Regions from separate parts of the Homo sapiens genome. Here region 1 is linked to region 2. Evidence: fine-mapped expression QTL. A gene starts in region 2. The other region holds a variant in brackets. All regions are shown on one strand. Distances are between the middles of the regions. Region 1 overlaps MFSD8 (major facilitator superfamily domain containing 8). Region 2 holds the start of MFSD8 (major facilitator superfamily domain containing 8).

Evidence for each region. PIP is the estimated chance that this variant, and not a neighbour inherited with it, causes the effect. A credible set is the group of variants that fine-mapping cannot tell apart.
Region 1: its variant is the best candidate, but not a certain one, in a credible set for the expression of MFSD8 in whole blood (TOPMed, PIP 0.63).

What each region holds. Positions count from the first base shown.
Region 1 is chr4:127,921,454-127,925,842 of GRCh38, forward strand. It overlaps MFSD8 (major facilitator superfamily domain containing 8), which reads right to left. Exons shown (of 12, transcript NM_001371596.2): 10 at 407-510; 11 at 71-318. Among named protein-coding and RNA genes, the nearest start is that of MFSD8, 42 kb to the right of the region's middle. The variant T/TC (reference allele first, on the strand shown) is at 2,354.
Region 2 is chr4:127,962,659-127,967,051 of GRCh38, forward strand. It overlaps MFSD8 (major facilitator superfamily domain containing 8), which reads right to left and starts at 2,515. Exons shown (of 12, transcript NM_001371596.2): 1 at 2,414-2,515. The coding sequence starts at 2,475. ABHD18 (abhydrolase domain containing 18) reads left to right here and starts at 2,748. Exons shown (of 13, transcript NM_001358451.3): 1 at 2,748-2,948. RefSeq lists silencers at 1,472-1,581, 1,692-1,821, 1,832-1,881, 3,002-3,231 and enhancers at 2,322-2,741, 2,332-2,947, 3,626-4,127, 4,128-4,393.

The sequences.
Region 1 (4,389 bases), 41 kb before region 2:
TGGCAGCAAAAAATGTTGAGTGCTTACAAGTATATTTTCTATAATTGCAATGTCAGGGTACCTGGCTTACCTGAGGTTTTGGTCCTAGAATTTTTGAATATAGAGTATAGGACATAAGATTGCAGACTGGATAGCCTAATCCTATTAGCACAGCTGATGTAAGGAACTGGGCCAGATGAATCACCGGGGTGTAGAGGCACCAGGCTTGTTCAATCGAGCAACCAGTTGGTCTTTCATTGTCATCTTCCATTGGAGACTTCCAAAGACCAATAATAATTTCCCCAAATGTGGTATTAGGGATTGAATTATTGTGCAAATCTGTAAAAACAAAACCATTGCAGTGCATTACTTGTTGATTTTAGATAAATAACAGAGGTTAACATTATAGAATTATGTATGGCTATACCTTCCCACTGTATTTTGGGAAATTGATTTCCCCAAGGTAACAAGATAAAGAAGCCAACCCATACAACGATGAGTCCTCCCAGTAGAATAGCACGCTCGCCAATCCTGTTAAAGAACAGAAACTCTGTAATTTTAAAATGAAACATTATAACATAGCTTCATTACTTTCATAATTTTAAAAACTAAAAATAATATCTTGTACTTTTAGTGATATATCCATTAAAAAGAATGCTAAATATAATTTTCCACTAAAAATAACCAGGACTCCTCTGAAAAATGGCTGACTTAAGGTCTGGGACACAAAAAGTAGATGAGCTCAGATCTTTCACAGCAAAAAGCACAGAAGTTATCAGTGACTACTAGGTCATGAGTCTTTTTGACTCAGCCAATTTGAAGAAGCTGGCCAAAAATGTGACAATGTGAGTACCAAAACAGAATAATAATGGCAATGGATTGAAACACACAAAAAGTATTATCATCTGTGGCCTGGTGTAGTGGCTCACACCTATAACCCCAGTACTTTGGGAGGCCAAAGCGGGAGGACTGCTTGATGCCAGAAGTTCAAAACCAGCCTGGGCAACATAGCAAGACCCCATCTCTACAAAAAATTTTAAAAATTAGCCAGGAGTGGTATTTGGTGCCTGTAGTTCTAGCTACTTAGGAGGTTGAGGCAGGAGGATTACTTGAGCCCAGGAGGTCAAGGCTGCAATGAGCTGTGATGGCACCACTGCACTCCAAACTGGGTGACAGAGCAAGACCCTGTCGCCAAAAAAAAAAAAAGTGTTATAATCTATGAATTCATAGTATATTAAAATAAAGTACTCTTTGGTCAGTTTTTGAGGATGTTAGGGAAACAAAAGAAAATAATCAAGCCTTTATCCTGCCTTTCCTATACAACTATAGCTCAGGTTAACCAAATAGTTGGTGAGGGAAAGATTCTCTTCATGGTAAGTATTCTAGCAAATAAATAAAGGAATGATAGAATTAAAATACCAGAATTTTGTAATGATTCATTAATGAATTAATGGATCTATGGAATAATCAGTGGCTACTTACATGTTAAGAAGAGATAAACAAAACATTATATTTCTTCTGATATAAGCACATATTCCCACCTATAAAGTATTCTTGCCAAAAAATTGAACCCAAATTTCATCAAGCTTCTAGATGCAAGTACTAGTTTTTAAGAAATACAGCAATCATGTCATCTGCAAACAGAGGCAATTTGACTTTCTCATTTCCTAATTGAATACCCTTTATTTCTTTCTCTTGCCTGATTGCCCTGGCCAGAACTTCCAACACTATGTTGAACAGGAGAGGTGAGAGAGGGTATCCTTGTCTTGTGCCGGTTTTCAAAGGGAATGCTTCCAGTTTTTGCCCATTCAGTATGATACTGGCTGTGGGTTTGTCATAAATAGCGCTTATTATTTTGAGATACGTTCCATCAATATCAGTTTATTGAGTGTTGTTAGCATGAAGGAGTGTTGAATTTTATCAAAGGCCTTTTCTGCATATATTGAGATAATCATGTGGTTTTTGTCATTGGTTCTGTTTATGAGATGGATTACATTTATTGATTTGTGTATGTTGAACCAGCCTTGCATCTCAGGGATGAAGCAGATTTGATCGTGGTGGATAAGCTTTTTGATGTGCTGCTGAATTCAGTTTTCCAGTATTTTATTTTTTATTTTTATTTATTATTATTATTATTATTATTATTATTATTATTATTATTATTTGAGACAGAGTCTTGCTCTGTCGCCCAGGCTGGTATGCAGTGGCGTGAACTTGGCTCACTGCAAACTCCGCCTCCCGGGTTCATGCCATTCTCCTGCCTCAGTCTCCTGAGTAGCTGGGACTACAGGTGCCTGCCACCACGCCTGGCTAATTTTTTTTGTATTTTTAGTAGAGATGGGGTTTCACTGTGTTGGCCAGGATGGTCTCGACC[T/TC]CTGACCTCGTGATCCACCCACTTCAGCCTCCCAAAGTGCTGAGATTACAGGCGTGAGCCACCGCACCTGGCCTGGGTTTGCCAGTATTTTATTGAGGATTTTCGCATCGATGTTCATCAGGGATATTGGCCTTAAATTTTTTTTGTTGTGTCTCTGCCAGGTTTTGGTATCAGGATGATTCTGGCCTCATAAAATGAGTTAGGGAGGAGTCCCTCTTCTTCTACGGTTTGGCATAGTTACAGAAGGAATGGAGTTTCAGAAGGAATGGAAACTTTGTACCTCCAGTAGAATTCGGCTGTGAATCTATCTGGTCCTGGGCTTTTTTTGGTTGGTAGGCTATTAATTACTGCCTCAATCTCAGAACTTATTATTGGTCAATTCAGGGATTCGACTTCTTCCTGGTTTAGTCTTGGGAGGGTGTATGTGTCCAGGAATTTATCCGTGTCTTCTAGATTTTCTATTTTATTTGCATAGAGGTGTTTATAGTATTAGAGAATACTGTGGTATTCTCTGACGGTAGTTTGTATTTCTGTGGGACCAGTGGTGCCCAAAATCTCCTTAAGCGACAAGCAACTTCAGCAAAGTCTCAGGATAAAAAATCAATGTGCAAAAATCACAAGCATTCCTATACACCAATAACAGACAAACAGAGAGCCAAATCAAGAGTGAACTGCCATTCACAATTGCTGCAAAGAGAATAAAATATCTAGGAATACAACTTACAAGGGATGTGAAGGACCTCTTCAAGGAGAACTACAAACCACTGCTAAAGGACATAAGAGAGGACACAAACAAATGGAAAAACATTCCATGCTCATGGACAGTAAGAATCAATATTGTGAAAATGGCCATACTGTCCAAAGTAACTTATGGATTCAATGCTATCCCCATCAAGCTACCATTGACTTTCTTCACAGAATTAGAAAAAAACTACTTTAAATTTCATACGGAACCAAAACAGAGCCCATATAGCCAAGACAATCCTAAGCAAAAAGAACAAAGCTGAAGACATCACAATACCTGACTTCAAACTACACTACAAGGCTACAGTAACCAAAACAGCATGATTCTTGTACCAAAACAGATATATAGACCAATGGAACAGAATAGAGGCCTCAGAAATAACACCACACATCTACAACCATCTGATCTTTGACAAACCTGACAAAAACAAGCAATAGGGAAAGGATTCCCTATTTAATAAATGGTGTTGGGAAAACTGGCTAGCCATACGCAGAAAACTGAGACTGGGCCCCTTCTTTATACCTTATACAAAAATTAATTCAAGAAAGATCAAAGACTTAAACATAGGACCTAAAACCATAAAAACCCTAGAAGAAAACCTAGGCATTACCATTCAGGACATAGGCATGGGCAAGGACTTCATGTCTAAAACACCAAAAGCAATGGCAACAAAAACCAAAATTGATAAATGGGATCTAATTAAACTAAAGAGCTTCTGCACAGCAAAATAAACTATCATCAGAGTGAACAAGCAACCTACAGAATGGGAGAAAATTTTTGCAATCTATCCATCTGATAAAGGTCTAATATCCAGAATCTACAAGGAACTTAAACAAATTTACAAGAAAAAAACAACCCCATCAAAAAGTGGGCAAAGGATATGAACAGATGCTTCTCAAAAGAAGACATTTATGCAACCAACAAACATATGAAAAAAAGCTCATCATCACTGGTCATTAGAGAAATGCATATCAAAATCACAATGAGATACCATCTCACACCAGTTAGAGTGGCAATCATTAAAAAGTCGGGGAACAACAGATGCTGGAGAGGATGTGGAGAAATAGGAACACCTTTACACTGTTGGTGGGAGTGTAAATTAGTTCAACCATTGTGGAAGACAGTGTGGCAATTCCCCAAGGATCTAGAACCAGAAATACCATTTGACCCAGCAATCCCATTACTGGGTATATACCCAAAGGATTATAAATCATTCTACTATGAAGACACATGCACATGTATGTTTATTACAGCACTATTCACAATAGTAAAGACTTGGAACCAACCCAAA
Region 2 (4,393 bases):
GAGCAAGACCCCGTCTCAAAAAAAAAGTATAGCAGTGTAAAATAAATTGGTATAGAAGCAAACAGTCCCAAATGTCTCAATAGGCTCTCAGGACATCACTCTACTAAAATTCATATCAGCATCTAAACTCATTTTAATGATCTCAAGATAAAATCAAGTAAAGATAAAACTGCATTGCATAAACTCTGTTTAGTAAATCGAGGACCAGAGAAATACATTTGCCAAAGGGTTTTGAGTTAGAGTGCTCACAAAAGGTTGGTGCTTAAGGGGAACAAATGAGTAAAAATTATTATGGTCATAGACAGCTGAAGTTTAACTGAATTTATTAATTTACCTGAGGTAATTATTATGTATATTTCAAATAAAATAGTAATTCCGTTTTCCTAAAGGTAAAAATACATTAGGTATACATTCCCGAGTCACTGCCCATAAACTAGGATCAGAACAACCAGAATTATAAGGATCAAAATACTGACGTTATTCCTTTAATGCCTTAAAATTAGTCTTTCTTTGTACATTTGGCATAGGACAAAGGCGAGCTCATTTTGGACAGATTTGTTAAACTATCAAGAGGTTGTCAGGCAATTAGGCAGCAGGTCATTACTAAGACCGATACCTTCAAGTATCTATTAAAACCATCATTTTGAAACTGTGAAATCTGGAAAGTGATCAGCTACAAAGGGCCAAATATGGAATGCAGAAGATACAGAATGTGGTGGCTTTGTGTCCGGGATTGGTGGGTTCTTGGTCTCACTGACTTCAAGAATGAAGCTGCGGACCCTCGCGGTGAGTGTTAACAGCTCTTAAGGTGGCACGTCTGGAGTTTGTTCCTTCTGATGCTCAGATGTGTTCAGAGTTTCTTCCTTCTGGTGGGTTCGTGGTCTCGCTGGCTCAAGAGCGAAGCTGCAGACCTTCGTGGTGAGTGTTACAACTCTTAAGGCGGCGCGTCTGGAGTTGTTCGTTCCTCCCCGTGGTCTCGCTGGCTTCAGGAGTGAAACTGCAGACCTTCGCGGTGAGTGTTACGGCTCATAAAAGCCGTATGGTCCCAAAGAGTGAGCAGTAGCAAGATTTATCGCAAAGAGCGAAAAAACAAAGCTTCCACACTGTGGAAAGGGACCTCAGCGGGTTGCCACTACTGGTGGGCAGCCTGCTTTTATTCTCTTATCTGGCCCCACCCACATCCTGCTGATTGGTAGAGCCGAGTAGTCTGTTTTGACAGGGCGCTGATTGGTGCGTTTACAATCCCTGAGCTAGACACAAAGGTTCTCCACGTCCCCACTAGATTAACTAGATACAGAGTGTTGACAGAAAGGTTCTCCAAGGCCCCACCAGAGTAGCTAGATACAGAGTGTCGACTGGTGCATTCACAAACCCTGAGCTAGACACAGGGTGCTGATTGGTGTGTTTACAAACCTTGAGCTAGATACAGAGTGCCGATTGGTGTAGTTACAATCCCTGAGCTAGACATAAACGTTCTCCACGTCTCCACCAGACTCAGGAGCCCAGCTGGCTTCGCCCAGTGGATCCCGCACCGGGGCTGCAGGTGGAGCTGCCTGCCAGTCCCGCGCCGTGCACCCGCACTCCTCAGCCCTTGGGTGGTCGATGGGACTAGGCACCGTGGAGTAGGGAGCGGCGCTCATCGGGGAGGCTCGGGCCGCACAGGAGCCCACGGAGTGGGTGGGAGGCTCAGGCATGGCGGGCTGCAGGTCCCGAGCCCTGCCCCGCGGGAAGGCAGCTAAGGCCCGGCGAGAAATCGAGCGCAGCGCCAGTGGGCTGGCACTGCTGGGGGACCCAGCACACCCTCCGCAGCCGCTGGCCCGGGTGCTAAGCCCCTCATTGCCCGGGGCCGGCAGGGCCGGCCTGCTGCTCCCAGTGCGGGGCCCGCCAAGCCCACGCCCACTCGGAACTCCAGCTGGCCCGCAAGCGCGGCGCGCAGCCCCGGTTCCCGCTCACGCCTCTCCCACCACACCTCCCTGCAAGCTGAGGGAGCCGGCTCCCACCTTGGCCAGCCCAGAAAGGGGCTCCCACAGTGCAGCGGTGGGCTGAAGGGCTCCTCAAGTGCCGCCAAAGTGGGAGCCCAGGCAGAGGAGGCCTGGAGAGCGAGCAAGGGCTGTGAGGACTGCCAGCACGCTGTCACCTCTCAGCTTGGGTGCTGCAACAGGCAAAGCAGCAGCCTGGGTTTCTCCAGCCCCGTCACTCGAACCCACGGGCTCATCACCGCACGGTGCGGCCAGACGCCCTTTCTCCTACGTTGGGAGCGAATCTCCTCGGCTCACACAACCCAGCCACCGGCTCCCACCGCGCTGGAACCCCTCTGGCAGCGAGGGTTTGTCCCAGTGCGGGTGACGCCCGGAAAGGAACCAGTCCCAACAGCGCAGGAGACTGAGGGGTCCCTCCACCAGGATCCGCTCACCTGCTTCCAGGTGTGTCGCCTAAGAGCGGCTCCTGTTCACTTTCGTTCCGCAGGCCGGCCATAGTTACACTCCCTACAAGGCGTCTTGCGCCCAACTCTCGCGACACCTGCTTTCTCCCATCCCGGGTGGCGTGAAGCTGGCAAAACAAGCCTGTAAGTGCGCGTGCGCACCTGACGGTCAGACGTAGGCGGAACGCCCCGAGGTCATAGGCGGGGTCACGCGGAAGGCCGGGCAGCGCAGGGCGAAAGGAGGCTGTGTCCTCAGCCTCCTCCCTCGGCACGCGCCTCCCATCCTGACGGGGACTGAGAGCCCAGGAGAGCTCGGGGCGTGTCCAAACTGCCGCGCCGCCCTGCTCCGGGTTTGTCTTCCTCCCTCCGTTTCTCCTTCCGCTGTATCTAGCATTTCGGTTCCTGGAAAGGTTACCGGAGCTGCGATTGGGGCTGGGACCAAAGTTGAGTCCTGGAAAGGGAGCCTGGAGAGCGGCGGTGCTGGGAGGCCCGGCCAGCTCGATCGCAGGCTTCCACCTGGCGGCCAGTAAGTAGCCGGTCCGGTTAAGTAGTAGGTGCGCTAAGAGCTCCCCGCGCCTCTTAGCGCGCCGTGTACGCGCCTGGAGGCAGGGACCGGGGACGCGGAGCTGGGCGGGAGACTCGCGGGTCAGGGACGCGGGGTGAGGCTGGGGGTGAGAGACAAGGCTGGAGTCCGTGGCGCGCTTCGGAGGGCTGAGATAATGGGGGCGAGCGCGCGGGCAGTCCCTTCCCCCCGTGAAAGGTAGAGGTGGCTTCCAGCTCTCTTCTCTAGCTCGGCTAAATGCAAAGGCGCCTTACCTGGAGGGCTTGTCAGAGCCAGGACTGAAGGTGGGATCTGCTGCTTGTAACCTGCAGGTCCCCGGATGCGCACCCCAACGGCGCCTGCGCCTACGGGGGCCTCAGCCTTGCAAAATGTCACTCAGCAGAGCCTGCTGCTGAAACGTGGGAGTTGAAAAAGGTACAGCACCTGCCTAGCAATGACCAGCTCCTTTCGTCACAAGGAAGATGACATTTTTAGAAAACATGTCATGGGTTTTCACTAGATCTCCATGTTTATTTCTTGGTGGTTATGTATTAACATCTTATCTCTACTATTAGGCTTGTAGGCTAGCTGGCGTCAGTAGTCATTCTGTGTCTCATAAATTACCGTTTTATTAGCGCCAGATACATTGTCATGTAATTTCATTTGATCACAAGTATCCTATGAGATAGGCGAAGCAGACACATTGCTAGTTTACTGAAAATTAAGATCCAGACAAGTTAACCCAGAGTCACTCTGTGTGGAAGTGGCAAAGTTGGAAACCAAACTTAATTTTTTTAAATTAATATTTATGAGCATTTACCCTATGCTAGGTCCTATACTAGTTACACAGTCATGTATGGTATATGCCATCACTTCTGATCTTTGTGTCATTTGTGACCTTGTGTGTATCAGCCAGGCGCAGTTCACTGGTGAACACCTAAACTTGAAACGTGCGGTCTGGGTGCGATGGTTCATGCCTGTAATCCCAGCACCTTGGGAGGCCAAGGCGGGCGGATCACGAGGTCAGGAGATCGAGACCATCCTGGCTAACACGGTGAAACCCCGTCTCTACTAAAAATACAAAAAAAAAAAAAAAAAAAAAAAAAAAAAAAAAAAAGCCGGGCGTGGTGGCGGGCGCCTATAGTCCCAGCTACTCGGGAGGCTGAGGCAGGAGAATCCCTTGAACCCGGGAGGCGGAGGCTGCAGTGAGCCGAGATCACGCCACTGCACTCCAGCCTGGGCAACAGAGTGAGATTCTGTCTCAAAAAAAAAAAAAAAACCAAAAACCTTGAAACGTGCTATTCAGAAATATCTTCTAAATCAAGACCTGATATTTTGTACTTGGATTCAGTCTTGCAGATTCATTTGTAACAGCTCACAAAAACAAGTCAGATTTGTATTATTGGTTCCAAAAAGACACATAGGTAGAA